Homo sapiens: one gene and its partners. The protein of the gene in region 3 purifies or fractionates together with the protein of the main gene of each other region. This does not show direct contact. Each region holds a gene or a part of one and is shown on either strand. Other genes may lie near its edges.

The links.
Region 1: the proteins of SV2A (region 3) and TKT purify together in Homo sapiens (affinity purification with mass spectrometry; one large-scale study listed by BioGRID and IntAct). This does not show direct contact.
Region 2: the proteins of SV2A (region 3) and TUBA8 purify together in Homo sapiens (affinity purification with mass spectrometry; one large-scale study listed by BioGRID and IntAct). This does not show direct contact.
Region 4: the proteins of SV2A (region 3) and JPH1 purify together in Homo sapiens (affinity purification with mass spectrometry; 2 studies listed by BioGRID and IntAct, with this or other methods). This does not show direct contact.
Region 5: the proteins of SV2A (region 3) and WDR11 purify together in Homo sapiens (affinity purification with mass spectrometry; 2 studies listed by BioGRID and IntAct, with this or other methods). This does not show direct contact.
Region 6: the proteins of SV2A (region 3) and HELLS purify together in Homo sapiens (affinity purification with mass spectrometry; one large-scale study listed by BioGRID and IntAct). This does not show direct contact.
Region 7: the proteins of SV2A (region 3) and SLC25A30 purify together in Homo sapiens (affinity purification with mass spectrometry; one large-scale study listed by BioGRID and IntAct). This does not show direct contact.

The regions. Positions count from the first base shown.
Region 1 is NC_000003.12:53,249,523-53,253,022, forward strand, and holds part of TKT (transketolase), read right to left. Parts: intron 1-3,500. UniProt on the Homo sapiens protein: Catalyzes the transfer of a two-carbon ketol group from a ketose donor to an aldose acceptor, via a covalent intermediate with the cofactor thiamine pyrophosphate.
Region 2 is NC_000022.11:18,120,809-18,124,308, reverse strand, and holds part of TUBA8 (tubulin alpha-8 chain), read right to left. Parts: intron 2,831-3,500; coding exon 2,608-2,830; intron 154-2,607; coding exon 5-153; intron 1-4.
Region 3 is NC_000001.11:149,902,818-149,905,331, forward strand, and holds the end of SV2A (synaptic vesicle glycoprotein 2A), read right to left. Parts: intron 2,381-2,514; coding exon 2,197-2,380; 3' UTR 501-2,196; downstream 1-500. UniProt on the Homo sapiens protein: Plays a role in the control of regulated secretion in neural and endocrine cells, enhancing selectively low-frequency neurotransmission.
Region 4 is NC_000008.11:74,255,541-74,259,040, forward strand, and holds part of JPH1 (junctophilin-1), read right to left. Parts: intron 1-3,500. UniProt on the Homo sapiens protein: Junctophilins contribute to the formation of junctional membrane complexes (JMCs) which link the plasma membrane with the endoplasmic or sarcoplasmic reticulum in excitable cells.
Region 5 is NC_000010.11:120,861,362-120,864,861, reverse strand, and holds part of WDR11 (WD repeat-containing protein 11), read right to left. Parts: intron 2,128-3,500; coding exon 1,941-2,127; intron 1-1,940. UniProt on the Homo sapiens protein: Involved in the Hedgehog (Hh) signaling pathway, is essential for normal ciliogenesis.
Region 6 is NC_000010.11:94,548,788-94,552,287, reverse strand, and holds part of HELLS (lymphoid-specific helicase), read right to left. Parts: intron 1-3,500. UniProt on the Homo sapiens protein: Plays an essential role in normal development and survival. Involved in regulation of the expansion or survival of lymphoid cells. Required for de novo or maintenance DNA methylation. May control silencing of the imprinted CDKN1C gene through DNA methylation.
Region 7 is NC_000013.11:45,404,874-45,408,373, forward strand, and holds part of SLC25A30 (kidney mitochondrial carrier protein 1), read right to left. Parts: intron 1,105-3,500; coding exon 1,010-1,104; intron 1-1,009. UniProt on the Homo sapiens protein: Antiporter that transports inorganic anions (sulfate, sulfite, thiosulfate and phosphate) and, to a lesser extent, a variety of dicarboxylates (e.g. malonate, malate and citramalate) and, even more so, aspartate.

The DNA of each region.
Region 1 (3,500 bases), on a different chromosome or scaffold from region 3:
AGTGAGCCAAGATCGCCGCCCCACTGCACTCCAGCCTGGGTGACAGAGCGAGACTCTGTCAAACAAACAAATAAATGAAGAAAAAGGTGCTAGGAGAGCTCAGTAGAGGAAGTTCTTGGGCGTCCACACTTCCCTTCCAGCTGTGTAGTCCTCGGAGATTCCACCCAGTGCACAAATGCAACTGACTTCTGAGCAACCCCCATCTGCAGGTGGGCTCACCCCAGCTCCCAGCACATCCTCTCTCCCCTACCTTGCCTCTCCATTCAGGGCAGGAGCAGAGCCTGCCTGAGGACCTAGCTCTGTGCAGGTCCCTGACCTCTAGAAGTGTCCCCAGCACCCAGGGCAAACTGGTCTGTGGCAAGAAGGGAGTTCCTGATTTTGTGGAACTAGGCGACAGTGACAACAAGCCTGCCACAAGAGACAATGAATGTTGAGGGGTCAGAGCCACAACAGGGGCCGGACATCAGTTAGAGTCCATAGGAAGCCACGACAAAGTCTCAGCCAGATCCTAACTAGGTGCTGTACTTCACTTCCAGTTTCTTAAAACACCGACCACCAGCCCTGCAGAGGAGAGGTCACTCGGGCAGAGAACCAAGCCACCCCAGGGTGGCCAGTGTCTTCACACTGAGTGAGGAAATGCTGCTGCTGGGGCAATCTCAACGGTCATGCTCTTGCCTCAGTCAGGGCCAGGATGGGTCCTGAGGCAGCCCAAAAACAGAAACAGGCCCAGAGAGGCGGAGCCACATGGGGCCAGAGACCCCAGGAGGCCCTCAAGCCTTCAGCCAAAGCACCTGGATGTCAGAGCTGGGTAAACTGGGATACAACCCCAGCCACTTTAAGGGCACAAAGAGCACCAGGATGTAAAATCAGCAACAGCGGGCGGTGGGACCCCGGAGCCCACTCACTCCATCCCCAGCCCTACTCCTGAGGCACCCAGTTTGAAACCACCTATCCATGAACCTCTCCTTTCAAGATGGAGAAAATGGCCTGTAATCCCAGTACTCTAGGGAAGCTGAGGCAGGTGGATCGCTTAAGCCCAGGAGTTTGAGACCAGCCTGGGCAAAATGACAAAACCTCAACTCTACAAAAAATACAAAAATTAGCCAAGGCATAGTGGCTCATGCCTGTGGTCCCAGCTACTTGTGAGGCTGAGATGAGGGCATCATTTGAGCCCAGGAGGCGGAGGCTGCAGTGAGCAGAGATCACGCCACAGCATTCTAGCCTGGGCAACTGAGAACCTGAGATAGGAAGGTTTTTTTGTTTTGTTTTGTTTTTTTAAGAGCCAGGGTTTCACTGTTGCCCAGGCTGGAGTGCAGAGCCATGATCATAACTCACTGCAGCCTTGAACTCCTGGGCTCAAGTGATCCTCACACCTCAGCCTCCCAAGTAGCTGGGACTACAGGCACATGCACAGCTCTTTCTTTTTTTTGTAGAGATGAGGTCTCACTATGTTGCCCAGTTTGGTCCTGAACTCCCAGGCTCAAGCAATCCTCCCACCCTGGCCTCCCAAAGTGCTGTGAATACAGGCATGAGCCACCGCACCTGGCCGGAAGGGCCTTTCTGACAAAGGCACAGCCACTAGGAACAGAGCCAGGGTTGGACTCATCTCCTGTGTCCACCAGCCAGGACTGGCCAGGCATTAACCTCCCCAAAGCTGTGGGTCAGAAACCCTGGGGGGACTTGTTGAAAGCACAGACCACCTTCCCTTTTGAATCAGGCCTGACTGTGATGGAGTCCTCAGATGACACTTGCACTGTTTGGATAACACCACAGTCTGGCCCTGGTGAGAACTGAGAAATCTTTGCCACCAGCCTCAGCATCCAGGCCACTTCTGACAAGGCCACTGGGGTTTTGTTTTTTTAAAGCCAGGATGAGCTGGACCCTTGCCATAATTCCTTCAGCCCATGGAAGGAGATGACCCCAGAGAAGCTCTAGCCACTGTGGGCGCTGCCTCAACAAAGAGCCTTCTGTGAGGTCTGTCCCTTCACCTCCAGGCCCAACTCCTGACAGAGGCCAGTGTCCCTGCTTCCTGGGCCTGGTGAGGTTCACTGCACACGGGTCAGCAATGGCATAGGAATGGGAAAGCTATCGAGAAACGAGCCTGGGTCCTCACAGAATGTACAAATCCTGTCTCAGTAAGTGGCCAGCAAAAGATTGGACCAAAGCTAGACATGGTAGCACATGTCTGTGGTCCCAGCTACCCAGGAGGGTGAGGCAGGATTGCTATAGCCTAGGAGTTCAAGACTGCAGGGAGCCATGACTGTGCCTCTGTACTCCAGACCTGGTGGGTGACACAGCAAGACCCTGTCTTAAAAAAAAAGAAAAAAGGAAAAGGGGCCAGGAGCGGTGGCTCACGCCTATAATCCCAGCACTTTGGGAGGCCGAGGCGGGCGGATCACCTGAGGTCAGGAGTTCAAGACCAACCTCAACATGGAGAAACCCCGTCTCTACGGGGTAAAAATACAAAATTAGCCGGGCGTGGTGGTGCATGCCTGTAATCCCAGCTACTTGGGAGGCTGAGGCAGGAGAATTGCTTGAACCTGGGAGGCGGAGTTTGTGGTGAGCCAAGATCGCACCATTGCACTCCAGCCTGGGCAACAAGAGTGAAACTCCATCTCAAAAGAAAAAGAACTGGATCAAAGTCCTGTGAGCTCCCCCAGAAAAGGGGACATTCTGACAAACTGTCACTTTAGCTGTGACTACAGCCCAGATTGGGCCAGGGCTTCCGGACTGAGCCTTCACTCTATGCCTCATTGCAGAGAGGGAACAGTGGGCCTCAAGATAAACATCTGGGGACAAGAAACAGAAGACTACCTGTGTCTCAAGTCTTCCTTGATTAGCTTTTGGGTGCAAACACACACATACTCTTGGCTCACAACTTTCAAAATATGGGTTGCATAGCAACGTTATTTCCTTCTGAAAAATAAGTTTTCCCTCCTTTTTTGCATATTTTAAACATATACATACACACACACAGTCACTGTATTTTACATATCCTTTTTTTCTTTTGCAAATGGATATTTTTTGAGTTCAGTGAGCTTCCCTCTCCAAGACATTACAATGTAAACATGGTGTAACTCTCGGACACCACAGTATGTTTCCGGAGGGGTAACGGCGGTGAGGAAATCAGACTTTGCCTAACAAAGAACTAGGAGACACACTTGACATTCCACTCTTTTGGAGCACCCTACATTTGTAAATCTTATTTCTCTCCAAGTGCCTTTCAGACTGACTAATATCCACCGCGGCTGTACCTGGCCTTCCCTTTCACCTTTTTCACCATTCTCCAGCCTGGCACAGACTGCTTGCCCAAGAGGCATTCTTTTTTTTTTTTGAGAAGAAGTTTCAATTTTGTTGCCCAGGCCAGAGTGCAATGGTGCAATCTCAGCTCACCGCAACTTCTGCCTCCCGGGTTCAAGTGATTCTCCTGCCTCAGCCTCCTGAGTAGCTGGGATTACAGGCGCCCGCCACCACGTCCAGCTAATTTTTTGTATTTTTAG
Region 2 (3,500 bases), on a different chromosome or scaffold from region 3:
TTACCAGCTTCCGTATGCGGTCCAGCACCAGGTCAATGCTCTCCTTGCCCACCGTGTAGTGGCCCCGGGCATAGTTGTTGGCTGCATCCTCCTTTCCTGTGATCAGCTGCTCTGGATGGAAGAGCTGGCGGTAGGTTCCTGCCCGAACCTCATCTTCCAAGAGAGGAAGACCATTAGGTCCTACTGCCCAGGGGAGAAGCCTCCCTCCCTACCACACTACCGCAGGACCCCTTCCGTTCTCCCCTACCTATAAAACTCCATGGAGGTTTGAAGCCAGACCACCTCGTAATGAATCTGCAAAAGGCTAAGAGAATTCCCGGGTAGCTCAGGGACTAACAGAGCCAAGGCCTGTGGCTCATGTGGGCGGTGAGAAGCAGGCTGCCCTGCTGGCTAGAACCCTAAAAAGACTTAGCTTTACAAAGCTCATCGAACATCGCCGGGCCCAGTGGCTCACGCCTGTAATCCTAACACTTTGGGAGGCCGAGGCGGGCAGATTGCCTGAGCTTAGGAGTTCAAGACCAGCCTGGGCAACACGGTGAAACCCCATCTCTACTAAAATACAAAAAGTTAGCCAGGTGTGGCAGCGTGCGCCTGTAGTCCCAGCTACTCGGAGGCCTGAGGCAGGAGAATCTCTTCAACCTGGGAGGCAGAGGCTGAGGTGAGCTGAGATCTTGCCACTGCACTCCAGCCTGGGCAACAAGACAGAGCGAGGCTCCATCTCCAAAAAAAACACAACAGCAACAAAACTTGGGCCGGCCGGGTGCAGTGACTCACGCCTGTAATCCCAGGATTTTGGGAGGCCAAGGCAGGCAGATCACGAGGTCAGGAGATCGAGACCATCTTGGCTAACATGGTGAAACCATGTCTCTACTGAAAATACAAAAAAATTAGGCAGGCGTGGTGGCCGGCACCTGTAGTCCCAGCTACTCGGGAGGCTGAGGCAGGAGAATGGCTTGAACCCGGGAGGCGGAGCTTGCAGTGAGCCGAGATTACGCCACTGCACTCCAGCCTGGGCGACCGAGCGAGACTCCGTCTCAAAAAAACAAACAAACAAAAAAACAAAAAAAAAGCTCATCGAACACCAACGCCAATTGCCTCTCCTCCCTTCCACCTTGACTCCTCCAGGTTTCCCTTTTGTTTTTTCTTTCATGCTGCAAGGTGTACCAACAATTTTTTTTTTTTTTTTTTTTTTTTTTTTGGAGACGGGGTCTCGCTCTGTCGCCCAGGCTGGAGTGCAGTGGCGCGATCTCGGCTCACTGCAAGCTCCGCCTCCCGGGTTCACGCCATTCTCCTGCCTCAGCCTCCCGAGTAGCTGGGACTACAGGCGCCCACCACCACGCCTGGCTAATTTTTTGTAATTTTAGTAGAGACGGGGTTTCACTGTGTTAGCCAGGATGGTCTCGATCTTCTGACCTCGTGATCCACCCGCCTCGGCCTCCCAAAGTGCTGGGGTTACAGGTGTGAGCCACCGCGCCGGGCCAAGGTGTACCAACAATTTAACTTAAGTCCTTTTGCATTAAAATATTCTAGGGACATGGAGAAAGATTCAGGATGATCTGCCCAGAACCTAGACCCCCAAGAGTTGTCCCACCCCTCAACTCCACCTCATGGTGGCAATAATATATGTCAGGCATTAGACATATTTTAGAATAATGGGAAGCAAAGCTATGTTCCAAGTCATAGAGGAGCAAGAGCCCTAGAGAGGCCTTTAAGGGGTCTCTGCTCACTTCCAAGGGTCCACACAAAGCGGATACAGAGCAGATCAAGACACATCAGGCCCCAACTATGTCACCTCTTCTCTTCGGGGTTCCTCTACTCCCTGCAGAAAAATCATCTGTGCAGTGGCCCAGGAGGTAACCTGCACTTTGTGCATTGGTGCAAAGCATCCAGGGGGTGGAGCATCTGCCCTCTGTTGCCCCTAGACATTGGTGTCCAGGCATATACTTCGTGCCCAGTCCTCTTTGCAGAACTGTCCATCTCTGGCTTGAGGAGCCAGGCTTGGAGCTGGGGAAATCCTGATATTCAACTGAGAGTTGACCCAGGGGTCAGAAACAGGGGAAGTGGCACTACTGGGGGATAGTGTGGGAAGGGGAGATCTGCCTAGACACAAGGCAGAATTCCTGTGTTTCCTAAACCTGAATGAACCTCATTCCAGAACTCCAGCGGCCCCTGGCTGTGAAGCAATGTGCCTGCTGTGATAGGCCCCTTTGTGTGTAAGATGCTGTGAGGTTATACCCACCCCGAGGGCAGACTCAGAAACCTATACTTAGGGAAATTGCTCACTTAGGGGTGTCTTATAATTTCTAAAATTATTTGGATTTTCTTATCCTTAGTATTTAGTAGCGATGTGACCATTTTGACCTGGTGCCGCAGGTTTTGGGGTTGAAGTGGGAGGCATTTTGTTCTGCATAGAGTCTTGATCACTGTCATGAGATTCCCCGAGACTGTGGGGACCCCAAGGAGCTGACAGATGTCACGTGGGGTGGGAGGCTGCGGTTGCACCATCCCCACCTTCCAGCTAGAGACGCTGCTTCCTTAGCTACTGTGGGCCAATGCCTCTGCAGTTTCGAGATGTTCTCTGTGGAGGGGAACTCCGCCCCCACTCACCCACTACAGTAGGCTCCAGATCTATCATGACGGCCCGGGGCACATGCTTCCCATTGCCAGTCTCGCTGAAAAAGGTGGTGAAGGAGTCATCATCGTTGATCTTGCTAGCTTGAGCATCAAAAGTGCCGTCTGCCTGGATGCCGTGTTCCAGGCAGAAGAGCTCCCAGCAGGCATTGCCAATCTGAACTCCCGCTTGGCCCACGTGGACTGATATGCATTCCCGCTGTGGGGAGAGGGAAGCAACGAGGTCAGAGAGTCTGGGCCCCCAGCATGCCTTTGCCCTACATCCCCATAACATTCACCTTGCAGGCCAGCCAGGCCCCAGCCCCCCATTGCCAGTTGGCGTTGAGGCTGCAGGTGCCCCAGCTCTATAGCAGCTGGACCAGGACTTAGATCCAAAGAAGACACAGCTGTTTTGTGCTTTGCTCTAAAGGTTGCTTCCCAGGGTTGACCTTTTATACCAGGAAAGAAAAAAGGAGGGTGGTTGCAAAGATGAAGCAAGGGGCTAATTCCAAACCACAAGATTCCTGCACTGGTGAAGAAGGCCCAAGGAAGAACTGGCGATCATGGCAGAAACTCTCCTTCAGCCTACGCCCACACAAGGCAGCATTCACAGCTGCTCCTGACCCTGACTTTCTGACATTGTGCACACATGCACACACACAGTCTCAGGATATCACAGAGCAAATGAGCACTCATGAAAGGAACATGCTCTGGAAGTATGCGCCATGGCTGTCAGTAGTATCATGGTTACCAATGTAGAAATAAAGGATTATTTATTACCCCAAGAGAGGATGGGGAGGGTATAAATTAGGCCCTTCCTGCACGCTGAACAATTGGAAAATCTTTGCAGCCCCATAGCCTGCCCCTTGCCTATGCCAGGCCAAGTGTTA
Region 3 (2,514 bases):
GTGTGGTGGCAGGCACCTGTAATCCCAGCCTCTTAGGAAGCTGAGGCAGGAGAATCGCTTGAACCCGGGAGGCGGAGGTTGCAGTGAGCCAAGATCACGCCACTGCACTCCAGCCTGGGCAACAAAGCGAGACTCTGTCTCAAAAAAAAAAAAAAACGTAGATTCAAGGTCCCTATCCTTCCAAACCAAGAAAAAAAAAAAGGGTTCTGATTCAACAAGTCAAGAGTGGAGTCTGGGGTCTATATTTTTAAAAAGCATACCAGAAGATTTAGAGGAAAGTTGGTTCTATTCTTATGAAACATTACTCCCAAAGTTTTCAAATCTGGGAGACTTAGAGGGCCCTCCATCTGTAGGGGAAAGATCAAGGTAGAGAGGCCAATTTAGGAAGTAAATCTGGTACACCATGTTATTCTGACCTTCAGTCCATCTCACCATTTTACCCTCCAAGGCTGTTAGGAGAATTGGATGTAGGTGGAGAGTCACAGAAGCAGGTATAGCCATTTTGTATTTTGAGGATTTGTTTCCGTTTTATTTTTCGTCAATATTTTTCACTGCATTTTTCACATCAACAGAGTTGGGTTTAGGGTTCCCCAGGAGAGCAAGGGAGATGGATGGGTCCCTCCCAGGGGTGCGAGGAAGAGGGCTACGTCCAGCATGTGGGGAGTGAGGGACAAGGGCACAGGGCACACACTCATACACTGGGCACTGGAGAAGGCAGTCTTTTGAGCACAGACACCAAAGAGTTAAACAGTCACCACCTGGTACAGTGTTACAAAATGGGGAGAGTGACCACAGGGTTGGGGCACTGGACGCAGCATGACGAAGGTGAATTTTGATTTTCTTTTTTGTTATTTTCACTTTTTTCCTTTTAACATTTTTTTAAACATTTTACAAACATCTAAAAACTACAACACGTCACAGCTACAGTGGGGTGAGGGGAGGGCACCAAAGAAAGCAGCCACACAGAGTAGGGTGGGATGGGGCAGCCTAACCTACAGAGGCTATTGTGTGGAAGGGTAAAATGGGGAAACTGAGGCTTCTAGTCCCTGCATTAGGGGTCCCTCACTCACTGCCCAACCTCTCCCCACTCAGAGGAGCTGCCAGGAGGGCCCCTGCTTCCTGCCTCTGCCCCAGCTCTTTGTGCTTTTTGATCTGCTGGTTTGACCAGATGCCTGGTTTCTTTCCCTCCCCTGCTCCCCTCCCTGTGAGGGGACAGGTAGGGAGCATGGGAGGGCAGCTGTGCTATTCCCGCCTGTGCTGTAGTGGGTGGAGCCTCTCACTCCAGAGGAGGCCTCTGCTTCTTGAGGAGGGAAGGAGATGGGCCTTGTCGGATGCCCTCAGATCTCCCTAGACTGTGGGACTCTTATCCCAGGCTGGCCTAGGGCTCCTCCATCCCAGGCTCAACACAGAAACCAGATTAGGGGAGGAACTGTGGGAGGCAGGGTTGTGTGTGCATCCGCTGAAATTACCCTTGGCTTATATTTGAGGACAGTATAGTGATACCCCCCGCCCCATGGCACATGCACACACATATGTAAGTATACATACACATTCACACACAGTCCTGCGGAGCTGCCTCAGAACTTAATCTATTAATAAATAAGAATCAGAAAGCTAATTTCATAAAATTCAGGCTTCATATTTGCAGCCCAAATTGAGAGGAAAGTGGAGGCCAGAGGGCTGAGGTTTATTGCTTCTCCCCCAGCATCCAACAGGAGATGTGAGAGGGCACCCGAGGCCCACTCTTCAGACTCTAAGAAGTTCTTTTGGTCCATGGTCTACACCAGAGCCCCAGCCCCTAGCATAATTGCATACCTGTGGTTTCACCAGGGCCTAGGCAGAGGGAATGATGGGGAAGGCAGGAAGCCTATTCTGGAACCCCTGGAACAGGGAAGCAAGGGCCCCTCTCTAACAGGGGGAGAAGGATGGGGCTCAGCCTTCTCTTGTGCAAAGTCAAGGGCAGTGGGAAATGGGGAGTACAGCTTCATCTCAAAACTGGGATGAAGGAGCCTTCCCTGTAGTCCCTGCCCACGGGGTTTACACACATGCACACGCACACGCACACACAGCTAAGACACCAAACACGGGGAGTGGGGAGTGAGGGCTCTGGAGGTCAGGATGGCAGGGCAGGGAGGGGAAGGAAGGAGTTGTTGGTCTCACAGTGTGCCTGCCAATCCCAAAGCCCTAGAGACCCCTTCACTGCAGCACCTGCCCCCGGGTCTCAGGCAGCTTCAGGGCCAGAGAGCTGCCAAGGGCAAGGGCAGCTGAGGCAAAGAGGATGGGTGCAGCCTTGGTGATTCCCACGAAGGATGTGAAGATGCTGATCCCCAGCACAGCTGCCAGCTTACACAGGGCATTCAGGAAGCCAAAAGCTGTGGTCCTGCTCAGGAGTCCCCCAGTGCAGCACGGCGCAAGGTACAGGAGGGAGGCAAAGGAAGAGTGGAGGGCAGGGAAGTGAAGTCCAGGAAGATGCAGGCAGTGTCCAAGAGGGAGAGAGAAGGTTGGAGAGATCAG
Region 4 (3,500 bases), on a different chromosome or scaffold from region 3:
AAATGGGATCTAATTAAACTCAAGAGCTTCTGCACAGCAAAATAAACCACCATCAGAGTGACTAGGCAACCTACAGAATGGGAGAAAATTTTTGCAACCTACTCATCTGACAAAGGGCTAATATCCAGAATCTACAATGAACTCAAACAAATTTACAAGAAAAAAACAACCCCATCAAAAAGTGGGTGAAGGATATGAACAGACACTTCTCAAAAGAAGATATTTATGCAGCCAAAAAACACATGAAAAAATGCTCATCATCACTGGCCATCAGAGAAATGCAAATCAAAACCACAATGAGATACCATCTCACACCAGTTAGAATGGCGATCATTAAAAAGTCAGGAGACAACAGGTGCTGGAGAGGATGTGGAGAAATAGGAATACTTTTACACTGTTGGTGGGACTGTAAACTAGTTCAACCATTGTGGAAGTGGGTGTGGCGATTCCTCAGGGATCTAGAACTAGAAATACCATTTGACCCAGCCATTCCATTACTGGGTATATACGCAAAGGATTATAAATCATGCTGCTATAAAGTCACATGCACACGTATGTTTATTGCAGCACTATTGACAATAGCAAAGACTTGGAACCAACCCAAATGTCCAACAATGATAGACTGGATTAAGAAAATGTGGCACATATACACCGTGGAATACTATGCAGCCATAAAAAATGATGAGTTCATGTCCTTTGTAGGGACATGGATGAAGCTGGAGACCATCATTCTCAGCAAACTATCACAAGGACAAAAAACCAAACACCGCATGTTCTCACTCATAGGTGGGAATTGATCAATGAGAACACATGGACACAGGAAGGGGAACATCACACACCGGGGCCTATCATGGGGTGGGGGGAAGGGGGAGGGATAGCATTAGGAGATATACCTAATGCTAAATGACGAGTTAATGGGTGCAGCACACCAACATGGCACATGTATACATATGTAACAAACCTGCACGTTGTGCACATGTACCCTAAAACTTAAAAAAAAAAAAAAGAACTCAAACAAATTTACAAGAAAAAAACAACCCCATCAACAAGTGGGCGAAGGATATGAACAGACACTTCTCAAAAGAAGACATTTATGCAGCCAAAAGACACATGGAAAAAAGCTCATCATCACTGTTCATTAGAGAAATGCGAATCAAAACCACAATGAGATGTCATCTCACACCAGTTAGAATGGCGATCATTAAAAAGTCAGGAAACAACAGAATAATGCAGTTTTAAACTAAACAACATAAGATTTAATTAAGATGGAAAATATCTGAAAATACTGCCAGCTCCTGAAAATAGGTAATTTGCCATGGAAGCGTTCAACATGTAAGCTATGACAGGCATCTTTTATTCCAGGGTTAACAACTTCTATGCACGAACACATGCATTCCAAACAATGGAGACTTTTATATCTGAGATATGTAAATTAAATGGCCAGCCTAATTTAGAAGTACTTGAAAGCCCTTTTCGAAAATGTCTATCTGATTTGCTCACCCTGTAAATGCAAAGTGGAGAGCATGAGTTATGCTCCCTTAAGAAGATCAATAATACCCGCGACAGAAAAGGCTTTCTATACAGTTGCTGAAGAAAGTGCTGGCTGTGTGTCAAAGGGGACTGCAGCCTCCCCGACAAGCTCTGGTCTCAAATAGACCCGCTGTCGTCCATGCTACTGTGATGTATTCATTCCTGACGGACAACTTGCTTATATGAAGCTGTTTTAGCTAAGAAAGGGTGGCATTACATTTTCCCACAATATTTTTTTTCCCTTCAAATGCTTTTACACCAGAAAAGGCTTTTAAAACCATTCAGTCTGGGAAACCAAGATGATCTTTCGTATCATTTACCTCTTGTTAACACCTGATAGAAATCTAAAGGGACCCCATTCCCCAACAGAATTAACAGAACCAAGAAATTACCATCTGCAGACAACAGTAAGTTTGTTTGCTTTCAAAGCCGCTCAAGCCCAGTGCCTCCTGATCAGTCAGGTTCTTTCCAATGGCAGCACTGCTAGGGAGGAGAGAACAATTTCTCCTGGGTGGCTGAACCCTTTTCCCAGCTCTCACGCCCTGGAACAGCTAATTTGCCAATATACGTAGGTACCAGGGAAGTATGAGTTCATTTCACGCCAGAGGAGAGTTTATTCCTACCAGAGGTCGCTGCAAAAAATGGAAAGGTTCCTTTTCCTAAAAATTGCATATATATAAAAAATGATTTAAATCTCAACCAGAGGTTTAAAAGAGATGCGTGTGAAAGAAAATACCCTTCTCAGTGGTTGCCTTGGACTTGAACTCTTAGAGAAGTCACTCTGTGATGATGATATCTATCATTCAACAACCACCTTGGGTCCCTCCCCAGCCTTTCTCTTATAAAAACCGAATCTTCTTTGCCTGGCCTTTTACTGTCTTCTTTCTTTGCAGGAACCTCCTGCCCCCATTCTCCAGGTCATTTCTCATTGCTCCATCCTTGATTATAGCCAAGTTTCTAGCTTTTCTACAAATCTTGCTATTTTGTTCACTTTGACTTACATCGTTCGTTAGGACTCAGTGATACCCTGTGGGTTCCGACAGCGTATACCCCTCACCAGAGCCAAACATGAATCGAACACCTACCTCATGCAGGGTGCTGGGCTAGGGACAGGATGCTAGTTATACAGCTTGATTTAATAAAAACCAGTGTGGAAAAATCCTTTACCAAGAAATGTAACTTTTAACATAAATTGAAAACATTTATTTTGGTTTCTTCACCTAGAAATCTGTTGATGCCTCAAACAATCACGGAGAATATATATAAATAGGTGAATATTGCCTTTTTGAAACTCAAAACAAAAACACTAGTATATTATAGAGAGGGGTAGAAAGAGTCTACTAGGAAACTACTAGAAAGTGAATTAAGAATTTAAACTATTGCAAATATTTGTTGATTGCTATTTTGTAACATCTGAGAGGCAGATGACCAAGATCGATTTTTTTGAGGTTGTCACTTTTATTTCTTCCATTGTGACATGCATTTTCCTCTTACTCTGTGCAGATTAATCTCTTTAAGTGGTATGCTGCTATACTTCCTAACCACAGTCCTTTGAACTTTGAACTTTAGTTCAGATACGTTAAAAAAAAGTCACAGTACTGACTGGCTCTTCTCTTACTACTAAAAGTGCCTCTGAATTTGGGGGTATTTGTTATAGAATCTGTAGCTGTCACTAAAATAATTTCTTAGAATCAGATATTTTAGATTCTTGTCTAGTTTACTGCTATCAGCTCAAACTTTGTTGGTCATATGTAGAGGGGAGGAAGGGTGAGACTCTGGGGAATAACCCATCTCCAGGGCTAACACTCAGACCTCGGGTGATATTTGTTACTACAAGTTGAACATTCCTAATCCAAAAATCTGAAATGCTCCAGAATCCAAAACATTGTGGGCACCGACACGATGCTACAAGTGGAAAATTCCACATGACCGATGGTCACAGTCAAAATGCAGTCAAAACTTTGTTCCAT
Region 5 (3,500 bases), on a different chromosome or scaffold from region 3:
AATATTGTATAGGATGGGTAGAAATGTCAGTGTTTCTAAGTTTTTGAAATATTAAGTAGTAGAATATTAAGTTATTAATATTACACAAGACATGGTAAATGATAATATAATAATAGCTGGCATGCATAAGACAGTTTTATTTTACTTTTACTTTGTCATTAAAAGTACTAGGCAAACTGTTAAAATCAAGACTCAGGATGAAAAACATCAACATTTAGGGTAATTAGGGCCCCTGGACCAGGAGTTACTGGACTATCTGTATGGCTTTGGGCAAGTAACTTCCCCTTGGCTGCCTTCATTCACTTTTAAGCTGTCTTAAATCTTTTTTGAAACAAAGTTTCACTTATATTGCAGCATTTTCTTGTGTGTAAATAAAACAGGTGAAACTATAAGGATTTTAAGAGATTGTTAGGGTCTGAAAAATCATTTTAATAATTTGTGATTGTTGCATACATTCAATGACCTTTTCTATATTAAATATATTTCAATAGGAATAGACATACAATTATGTACTATTTTCATTTTACATTTCATTTTACAAACATAATTTTATTAAAAGGCTTTGAAATTTAAAATAAAGTTAGTTCACAAGACTAGAAAGAGGAATTTTTATTGCATTAAAATCCCGACTGCCATGTCCTAGTTGGGTGAGCTTGAGTAACTTTATTTAAATTGGTGTGGGACTCAGTTTTCCTTATTTGTAAAATGGGAATATTACTACTGCCAGAATTGTAGTAAGAGTCCAGGAATTAATAGATGTGAAAGCACCCAGAGCGGTTCTACTTGAAGAAATAATGTATTTCCCCAATACTCAAGATATACATATAATTCATATGAGAGAAAACTTAAGAAATATAAAACATAACTTATAAAACTATTCAGACTGCCAAATAATTTCTTGTTTATGAGAGGGAATACATAAAAAATAGAAAGTTCTCTTAAGATACTTAAGAAGTAATCTTAAGTCATTTTGGCACAGGGTGAGAGATAAATTAACTAGTGAACTTAACCAGCCTATGGCTTAATATATAGAAGTGATACTTACACACAAGTGCAAAATGTATTTGTAGAGCAATTTATATTTTTACCACATATTTTTCAAGTAGTTACTCACCAAGCCTAGAGAGAGTAATCTTGGCATATTAAAAATAAAGGCTATCTGAAAATGAATGCCAAAACAAACAAAAAAGCCTGCCAAAGCAATAATATACAGATTATTGCTATAGGAAAAAGAAAGAAACCTATTTTGAATACATCAAATTACTTAAAATAAACTTTTATTCAGTTGTAATTTCTTAATAACAGCCGACATCTTCTAAATAAATTACTATGTATCAATGACATTACATGCTTTACTTACATTATTGGATCTATTGATCTTTAAAACAACCCTATGAAATACTTTAAAGCCTTATTTTAGAGACTGGGAGAGAGAAATTTGAGTAAGATTAAAGAAGTTTCTCAGTCTCATAGCTAAAGCTTCCCCCGGAGCCTTGGCTCTTAACCAGGATGGGAGACATCTTCACCTGCATAAGAAAAACACTCCGATTTTACTGCTGAATGAGAATGCACAGCACCTAAGTCAGGAAAATGTATTTAAAATGAGTATCCAGCTTTTGTGCCCAAATTTTTAATGCATTCAATTGCCTGAACTTTAGGATCATTGCGATTTTCACAAGTAAAAATCAGAATTCAAAAATTTTAATCTATAAAAGTCAGTGGGGAAGTTTAGCACAGCTAGTGGAAACAAAGGCAATGTTAAATGCTGAATCTCCTCTTAGGGCAGGGGACAAAAATAAATATTTTTTTCCTCTAATAAATTCAAAATTAGAAATGAGAAAAAGTGAGATGAAGAAAAACATCAGTCTTTGTACATCTCCAAAAATGATGCTTTCATACCAGATAAGTAGATGAATGTTAATTTTACACTTGTAACTTACCTAGGTTTCTCTTGAGTGATTAAAATTTTTACTTTATTTAGAGCTTTCTTGGCACCTGTGGCTGTGGCCAGCTTGTTATGAGCTGGGCTAGAGTGTGGGCTGGATATGTAAACTTTTTTCCCAGGGCCTGAGGGAGGCTTGGATGGGGAGAAGTCTGAGATGAAAACAATACCCTCGCTGGTAAGCACTATATTGAGAAAAGCAAAACTCTGATTAAAGTTTAATGAAGTTTAGCATACAGTTTTATTCCAATACAATTTTGAGAGCAATATAGTGATAATTTTAATAATATATAACTGGCAATGTTATGCATTCATAACATAATGGGAATGTTCTCTAAGTTGAAGAGAAACAGGTGGTCCATTACAATTCATCAGAGGCCTCCAAGCTTGGCATTCTATATTATGTCTTATATTAAAAAGATAACATAAGGTTATTGGCAGAAAGAACAAGTGTTTGTTCTTCTAAATAAATTCAGGGCACGGACTTTCATTAAAAATCTTTCCTTATTATCCCAGCACTTTGGGAGGCAGAGGCAGGCAGATCATGAAGTCAGGAGTTCGAGACCAGCCTGATCAACATGGTGAAACCCCGTCTCTACCAAAAATACAAAAATTAGCCAGGCGTGGTGGCACACACCTGTAATCCCAGCAACTCAGGAGAGTGAGGCAGGAGAATCGCTTGAACTGGGAGGTGGAGGTTGCAGTGAGCCGAGATAGTGCCACTGCACTCCAACCCGGGTGACAGAGCAAGATTCCATCTCAAAAAAAAAAAACAAAAACAAAAACAAAAAACAAACAAACAAAAAAACTTTAACATATCCCATAACTTAAAAAAACAAAAAACCATACTTAAGAGGCTCTGCATATCACAATTAGCTAAGTTCATATATTTTATTTGATGATACCAAATTTTTATCCTGAGCTACTCAGTCTAAATATATTCCCTTTTTCTTCTCAAGCATCAGATCGAACCTTAAGATGATTAAGGAATATTCTTTTCCCTTAATATTTAGAAAACAGTAGTGGGCCCACAGTGACTTACTAAGTGTACATGAAACAAAAATAGTCAAGGAGGGAGCACCATATTTAGCAATACAAATTATGCCTTTTTATGACTGAAAAAATAATCTCCCTCAACAATGGGCCTAATACTGGAAGACATGAGCAGAAAAACCTTACTACCCTGGGTCCCAGCCCTTAGCAAGGCTGCTCTAAACACAGGGAAAAAGGATGCATTCAAGAGTTATGACAACCCTAGCACATTCAATATGAGTAAATCAAAGATGTTAGGTCAACTGACACTCTGGAACACACAATGCTTTCATCAACCAAATTACAGAGATGTAAAGAGCTGATGCAATCAAGTTAGCTGAAAGCCTTGTTGCCTTTTCAGGTTCCAGAACTCATCCTTCAAGGTCCCCTTTGCTTCCTTCTTTTGTGATGCCCTCCTTCCCTGACTCTGCCAACTGGGCCAGCCCTCCTAGGTGTTTCCCCAGCACTGCACCTATGTGAGTAAGTAAACTGGTGACCAAGTGAGTGTATGTATGCACACGTCCAT
Region 6 (3,500 bases), on a different chromosome or scaffold from region 3:
AATTTTATAGATTAGATAGTAGATATGTTTCATTTTATACAAACTCTTGACTTAAAAAGTCTAGTGGCAGATTTTTTAGTATTTTGTTTTCTCAACTAAACCAATTCCTCTACTTTTCAACAAGGATTAGTAAAAACACAAAGTCAACCAATAAAATCTAACTGCCCCTTTCCCCAGTAATTGGTGGTTTCAACTTAAGAGGAAAGTAATTGAGCATTGTTTACAGCGTGTTTGAAATGGGGGATATGAGGCTGGGCGCGGTGGCTCACGCCTGTAATCCCAGCACTTTGGGAGGCTGAGGCGGGCGGATCCCGAGGTCAGGAGATTGAGACTGTCCTGGCTAACACGGTGAAACCCTGTCTCTACTAAAAATACAAAAAATTAGCCGCGTGTGGTTGCAGGCGCCTGTAGTCCCAGCTACTTGGGAGGCTGAGGCAGGAGAATGGCGTGAACCCGGAAGGCAGAGCTTGCAGTGAGCCGAGATCGCGCCACTGCACTTCAGCCTGGGCAACAGAGCGAGACTCCATCTCAAAAAAAAAAAAGAAAAGAAATGGGGGTATGAATTCATTTTTATACTCTAAATAATGCCCTAGCACTTGGGTAGTTTTGCTGCTCCAGCTTATCAATATCTCTAAGATATCATTTTATATTGCCTTACATTTTCCTAGCTATTACATCATCACTATAGCTTTCTTTCAAAATATATTTCTTTTTCTTTTTTGAGATGGAGTCTCACTCTGTTGCCCAGGCTGGAGTGCAGTGGCACAATCCTGGCTCACCTCTGCCTCCGCCTCCCGGGTTCAAGCAATTACCTGCCTCAGCCTCCCCAGTATAGCTGGGACTAGAGGCACCTGCCACCACACCCCGCTAATTTTTGTATTTTTAGTAGAGACGGGCTTTCACCATCTTGGCCAGGCTGCTCTTGAACTGACCTCGTGGTCCACCTGCCTCAGCCTCCCAAAGTGCTGGGATTATAGGTGTGAGCCACCGTACCCGGCATCAAAATATATTTCTATTATAAAATCAGTGACTACAGTAAGATTCTAAGAATGGACCTAACAAAAGTAATGCATACTCATTACAGAAAAACTAAATGTCAAAAAATATATAAATCACCCATAATCCCACCTACACAGATAATTCTTAATATCTTGAACTCAATTTTCAGTTCTTTTAGGACAGAATTTCTTTTACTATTACCAGTATACTACTGTGGTTACAATACGCAACTACTGAGGTGAATATGAAAACAGGGAGATGAAAATTACTTACACAATATATGGATTCTTAAATTTTTAACTTTTAAAATTTAAGTTCAGTTAAAATAACGTGGGTTTAACTTAGATATAGTTGATACCTTAAATCCTGTACAGAATTAGCACTTTTTCTTTTTTCTGAGACAGGGTCTCGCTCTATCACCCAGGCTGGAGTGCAGTGGTGAGATCTCGGCTCAATGCAACCTGCGCCTCCCAGGCTCAAGCGATAATCCTCCTGCCTCACCCTCTTGAGTAGCTAGGACTATAGGCGCGTGCCACCATGCCGGCTAGTTTTTTAATTTTTTGTAGAGATGGGGTTTCACCCTGTTACCCAGGCTGGTCTTAACCCCTGGGCTCAAGCGATCTGCCCCGCCTCAGCCTCCCAAAGTGCTGGGATTACAGGCATGAGCCACCGCGCCTGGCCAGCACATATTTTTAAAACAACTAAATACAGCCAGGCATGGTGGCTCACGCCTGTAATCCTGGCACTTTGGGAGGTCGAGGAAGGCAGATCACGATGTCAGGAGTTTGAGACCAGGCCGGCCAATATGTTGAAACCCCGTCTTTACTAAAAATACAAAAAAAATTAGCTGGGCGTGGTGGCACGCGCCTGTAGTCCTAGCTACTTGGGAGGCTGAGGCAGAAGAATCGCTTAAACCCGGCAGGTGAAGGTCGCAGTGAGCCAAGATCACGCCACTGCACTCCAGCCTGGGTGACAGAGGGAGACTCCGTCTCAAAACAAACAAACAAGCAAAAAAAACCTAAATACTTGCCTGGTGCTCCTGGAAAAATTTTTCCTAAAAAAAAAAATCAGCTGGGCATGGTGGCTAATGCCTGTAATCCCAGCACTTTAGGAGGTCAAGACGGGCGGATCACCTGAGGTTGGGAGTTCGAGACCAGCCTGACCAACATGGAGAAACCCCATCTCTACTAAAAATACAAAATTAGCCAGGCTTGGCGGCACATGCCTGTAATCCCAACTACTCAGGAGGCTGAGGCAGGAGAATTGCTTGAACCCCGGAGGCAGAGGTTGCAGTGAGCCGAGACTGCGCCATTGCACTCTAGCCTGGGCAACAAGAGTGAAACTCTGTCTCAAAAAAATAAAAATAAAAATAAAAATCACTAAAGCTTTAAGATGCCATCATGGAAAAAAATAATATACAATTAATATTAAAATAATACCATGTAAGTGGTTAATCCTTAAACCTGGTCTTCTGTATTTCAAATCTTCCTATCACTGTTTTTTCTTTATTTATCAATTTCATGATTATATTACGGTAAATTGCAACTCCATCTATTAAAAGCACTGAGTGCCTGGCAGGAAACAACTCTGGGTAACTACAGTACAGAGTATGCCAATGGACACCGAGGGCAGAAATTCCTCATTATCTACCCCATTATCTCTCCCAACACCAATCCCAGATTTTTTATTGGGGGGTGGGAGGAGTTCTATTTTAGCCTACACATATCATGATCCTTTTACCTCTCCAAGAAATCTCCTGACTCCAACTATTCCCCCTCCTCCACTTCACAGGCACTATCAGTACTCAAATCTCCTAGACTAACAATGACTTCTTTTAAAGGGAAATACATGTGAAAAGTCAAAGAAAATAACTGTAGCCAATGAATGTCAAAGTCATTTTCTAGGTTCCTCACAAACCTTAGGATTTCCTAAAGCCAAATGCTTCTCATTAAGGAACTTAAGCTAGCTCTTCCTCTGTTAAGTACTTCTAAATACATGCCCATACAGACTGTATTCTCCCAAAAGAAAAGGAATCTCTACCTGTGCATAGTTAATTGTTTGGCCTCCAAAGACATGTTTATTAATCTCAAGTAGGTAGAGACTCTGAAAACTTTTCTTAGAATTTTCTAGTGTCATCTAGGCAATCACTTTTTATGAGGGTCCAGTGCAAAAAATAATCAAAAACTTTCCTTATCTGTACATAACAAGACAATGTAATACGAAACCACAACACTAATGTTTTAGCAAATTACACACTTATATTAAGATTGAAAACGGCTACATACTTTTTTTTTTGAGACGGAATCTTGCTCTGTCACCCAGGCTGGAGTGCAGTGATGCCATCTCGGCTCACTGCAACCTCTGCCTCCTGGGTTCAAGCAATTCTCCTGCCTCAGCCTCCTGAGTAGTTGGGACTGCAGGTATGCGCCACCACATCTGGCTAATTTTTATATTTTTAGTAGAGACGGGGTTTCACCATGTTGGCCAAACTGGTCTCGAAC
Region 7 (3,500 bases), on a different chromosome or scaffold from region 3:
ACTAATGAAGGAATTTTGCTTTGCAAAATTTATTGATATCTAAATGTGATTTTATTTTTTTTCTCTTGAGATAGGGTCTCACTCTGTTACCTAGGCTGGAGTGCAGTGGCACAATCACAGCTCACTGCAGCCTCGACCTCCTGGACTCAGGTGATCCTCCCATCTCAGCCTCCCCAGTAGCTGGGACTATAGGCGTGCACCTCCACGCCTGGCTAATATTTTGTATTTTTTGTAGAGATGGTGTTTCACCATGTTGCCGAGGCTGGTCTGGAGCTTCTGGGCTCAAGTGATCTGCCCGCCTCAGCCTCCCCAAAGCACTGGGATTACAGGCACGCGCCACCGCACCCAGCCCCAGTTCACATTTATGTATAAATTCAGACCATCATAATTAAGATGAGCTATATCTGTTAGGACAATAATTCCTATGAGATAACATGACGACTTATTTGGCACAGAAAGTTTTTAAAGCACATCGTATGTATTTAGTTTGAAATATCCTGAAGTATTTCCAAAGCATCTTAGCTCTTGTTCACCACTCTTACATAATAGTGTCTGGTACTCATCCCATTGTGAAAAGAGATGAAGATGGACAGTTCTATGGATCAAAACAAAGCCACAGAACCAAAAAGCCAGAGTATTAGCATTCAGTGTTGTTAATATTAAGAAATGTATTCACTGTTTTCCTGAAAAATAGATGACAATTCATATGATTTTAGCAAATTTTAAGTTGGATGGAATAGTAACAACACATCCCCTGGTCTAGGCATTTTGGAGATGGGGACAACTAATTAAAATGTTTGCAGAGATGGTTCCTTTTCATTATTTCTCCCCTCAATTGAGTTGATAACCAACTTGCTTTCAGCACAATTAACTAAGACTTTACACCCAGAGTTCTTGTAGCAGTAGGAAAGTCACAAATAAGCTGAAGAAAACCTGCTCCAAAACCACTTGAATAAAAAGACAGACAACCAACCTCCTGTCCACAGTGGAAAACAGATTCCCCACTCACCTTCTGGGCGTTCAATGAATAGTCGCTTCAAGCTCTGGTAAGTGCCTATCTTGATGGTGCCATAGGATGCCTGGCGTAACATCGCGGGGGCAATCCTGTTAAACCAATGTACAAAGGGACAAAAGCAATCTAAAAATCACTTAACATCGGCTAGGCAACCCACATGCAGAGTGCCATCCATAATCAAACTACATTCTCTAAAACAATTTTTTTTTTTTGAGACGGAGTTTCGCTCTGTCACCCAGGCTGGAGTGCAATGGCTTGATCTCAGCTCACTGCAACCTCTGCCTCCCGGGTTCAAGCGATTCTTCTGCCTCAGCCTCCCGAGTAGCTGGGAATACGGGCACCCGCCACCACACCTGGCTAATTTTTGTATTTTTAGTAGAGACGGGGTTTCGCCATGTTGGTCAGGCTGGTCTTGAACTCCTGACCTCAGGCCTCGGCCTCCCAAAGTGCTGGGATTACAGGCATGAGCCACTGCACCCGGCCTCTAAAACGATTTCGTAAAATTCAAAATCCAACAAAAACACAGGTGGGTCCAGATGTGCAAATTATTAGCTCACTAAGTGAAAGCCTAGCCCCTCATATTTATTCTCAATGAAAATGTAAGTGAAGAAGTTCAAGACAGAATCAGGAAAAACAAGCCTACTTTCCTCCATCCGATATGCCTGTCCTATTATCCTCTCCAAACCACAACCACGTTGTGGCATGGACACTCCCCGGGTGTCTTTCTGCATTTCCCCACTTCCTTCTTGAATTGCAATCAGGGTTTCTGCTGCCCTCACCCTCAAAACTCCCCTCTTCAAGGTGACCAACTGACATCTTTGTTGCTAAGTTAAATGAGGCTTTTCAAGTAGGATCTTGTATAAGCTCTTTGCAGTGTGTGCCACTGTTTACCCTTTGTCCTACTTGTAGCTGTCTCCTCCCTGTTCTGCTGTAGCATCACCCCCTCTGACTTCTTTTCTTTTCTCTACAGCATCCTACCTGTGTCTGCTGGGGTTCCCCAGAAATCTATCCTATGCTTCTTCTCTCCTTACTGTACATGTTCCCTGTGTGAGCTCACCTACTCCCAAGGCTTCAACTGCCATCTAAAGGCTGGCCAGGCACGGTGGCTCATGCCTGTAATCCCAGCACTTTGGGAAGCCAGGGCAGGCAGATCACTGCACCTCAGGAGTTTGAGACCAGCCTGGACAACATGGCAAAACCCCATCTCTATAAAAAATATAAAAGTAGCGCCAGACACGGTGGCTCACACCTGTAATCCCAGCACTTTGGGAGGCCGAGACGGGTGGATCACTTGAGGTCAGGAGTTTAAGACCAGCCTAGACAACATGGTAAAACCCCGTCTCTACTAAAAATACAAAAAACTGGCCGGTTGTCATAGCTGGTGCCTGTAATCCCAGCTACTCGGGAGGCTGAGGCAGGAGAATTGCTTGAACCTGGGAGGCAGAGGTTGCAGTGAGCCTGGGCAACCGAGTGAAACGCCATCTAAAAAAAAAAATTGTGTGTGTGTGTTTGTGTGTGTGCAGCTAGGTGCAGTGGCTTGTTGTGCCTATAGTTCCAGCTATGTAGGGGGCTGCAATGAGAGGATCACTTGAGCCTGGGAGGTAGAGGCTGCTGTAAGCCATTTTGTGCCACTGCACTCCAGCCTGGGTGACAAAGCAAGACCCTGTCTCAAAATAAATAAATGAAAAATAAAATAAAAGACTGATGACTCCAAATCCATGCTTCCAACATGGATCCAAAGACACATTTCCAATCTTCCAAGATTCTCCATTTAGATGTCCTGTGTATACCTTCAGATAGGGTCCCACACTGAACTACTTCTCTTCCTTCTCCAAACAGTCATCTCTCCTCTTGTGTTTCCTAAACCAGGACATGGAAGCTCCAGCTACACACTGGCAAAAACCACCAATTGAGACATTAGTCTTGGCTCCTCCTTCCCTTCTACCCGCTTCATGTATGGAAACCTCATATTAGGTCACGTAGTGCTATCAGTCCTACACCCTAAATAGTTTTCTAGCCTGTCTTCTTTTTCCTCATCCCCAAAACCAATTCAGATCCTCATCTAGTCTTCCTACATGACAGCCCTGCTTCTAGTGCTCCCTGTCTCTTAATTCTTTCTCTCCATGGCAGGCAGGTGATGTTTACAATGTAAAGCTGATCAGGTCCATCCTCCTACTTAAACACTTTCAGTGGCTTCTGTCTGCCATAGATATAGCAAACTCAAATGCTGACAGGTACCAAGAAAGCAGATGCCATGAGTGAATGATCCAGGCTGGGTCGAACTGCACACACATATACTATGTGAGTGACAGAGGTTTTGTAAACCAGAGACAGTATCCTTCACCCCAGCTACTACTGTCATAACTGAATGAATGTGGGCCTAATGTTGATTTCTCTCAAGAAGATGGAGTCCCAGATTTTTATGTGCAATTTCTCATTTTTAAAATATTGGCTCAATTAAAAAAACAAAAACCTCTGGGGATTG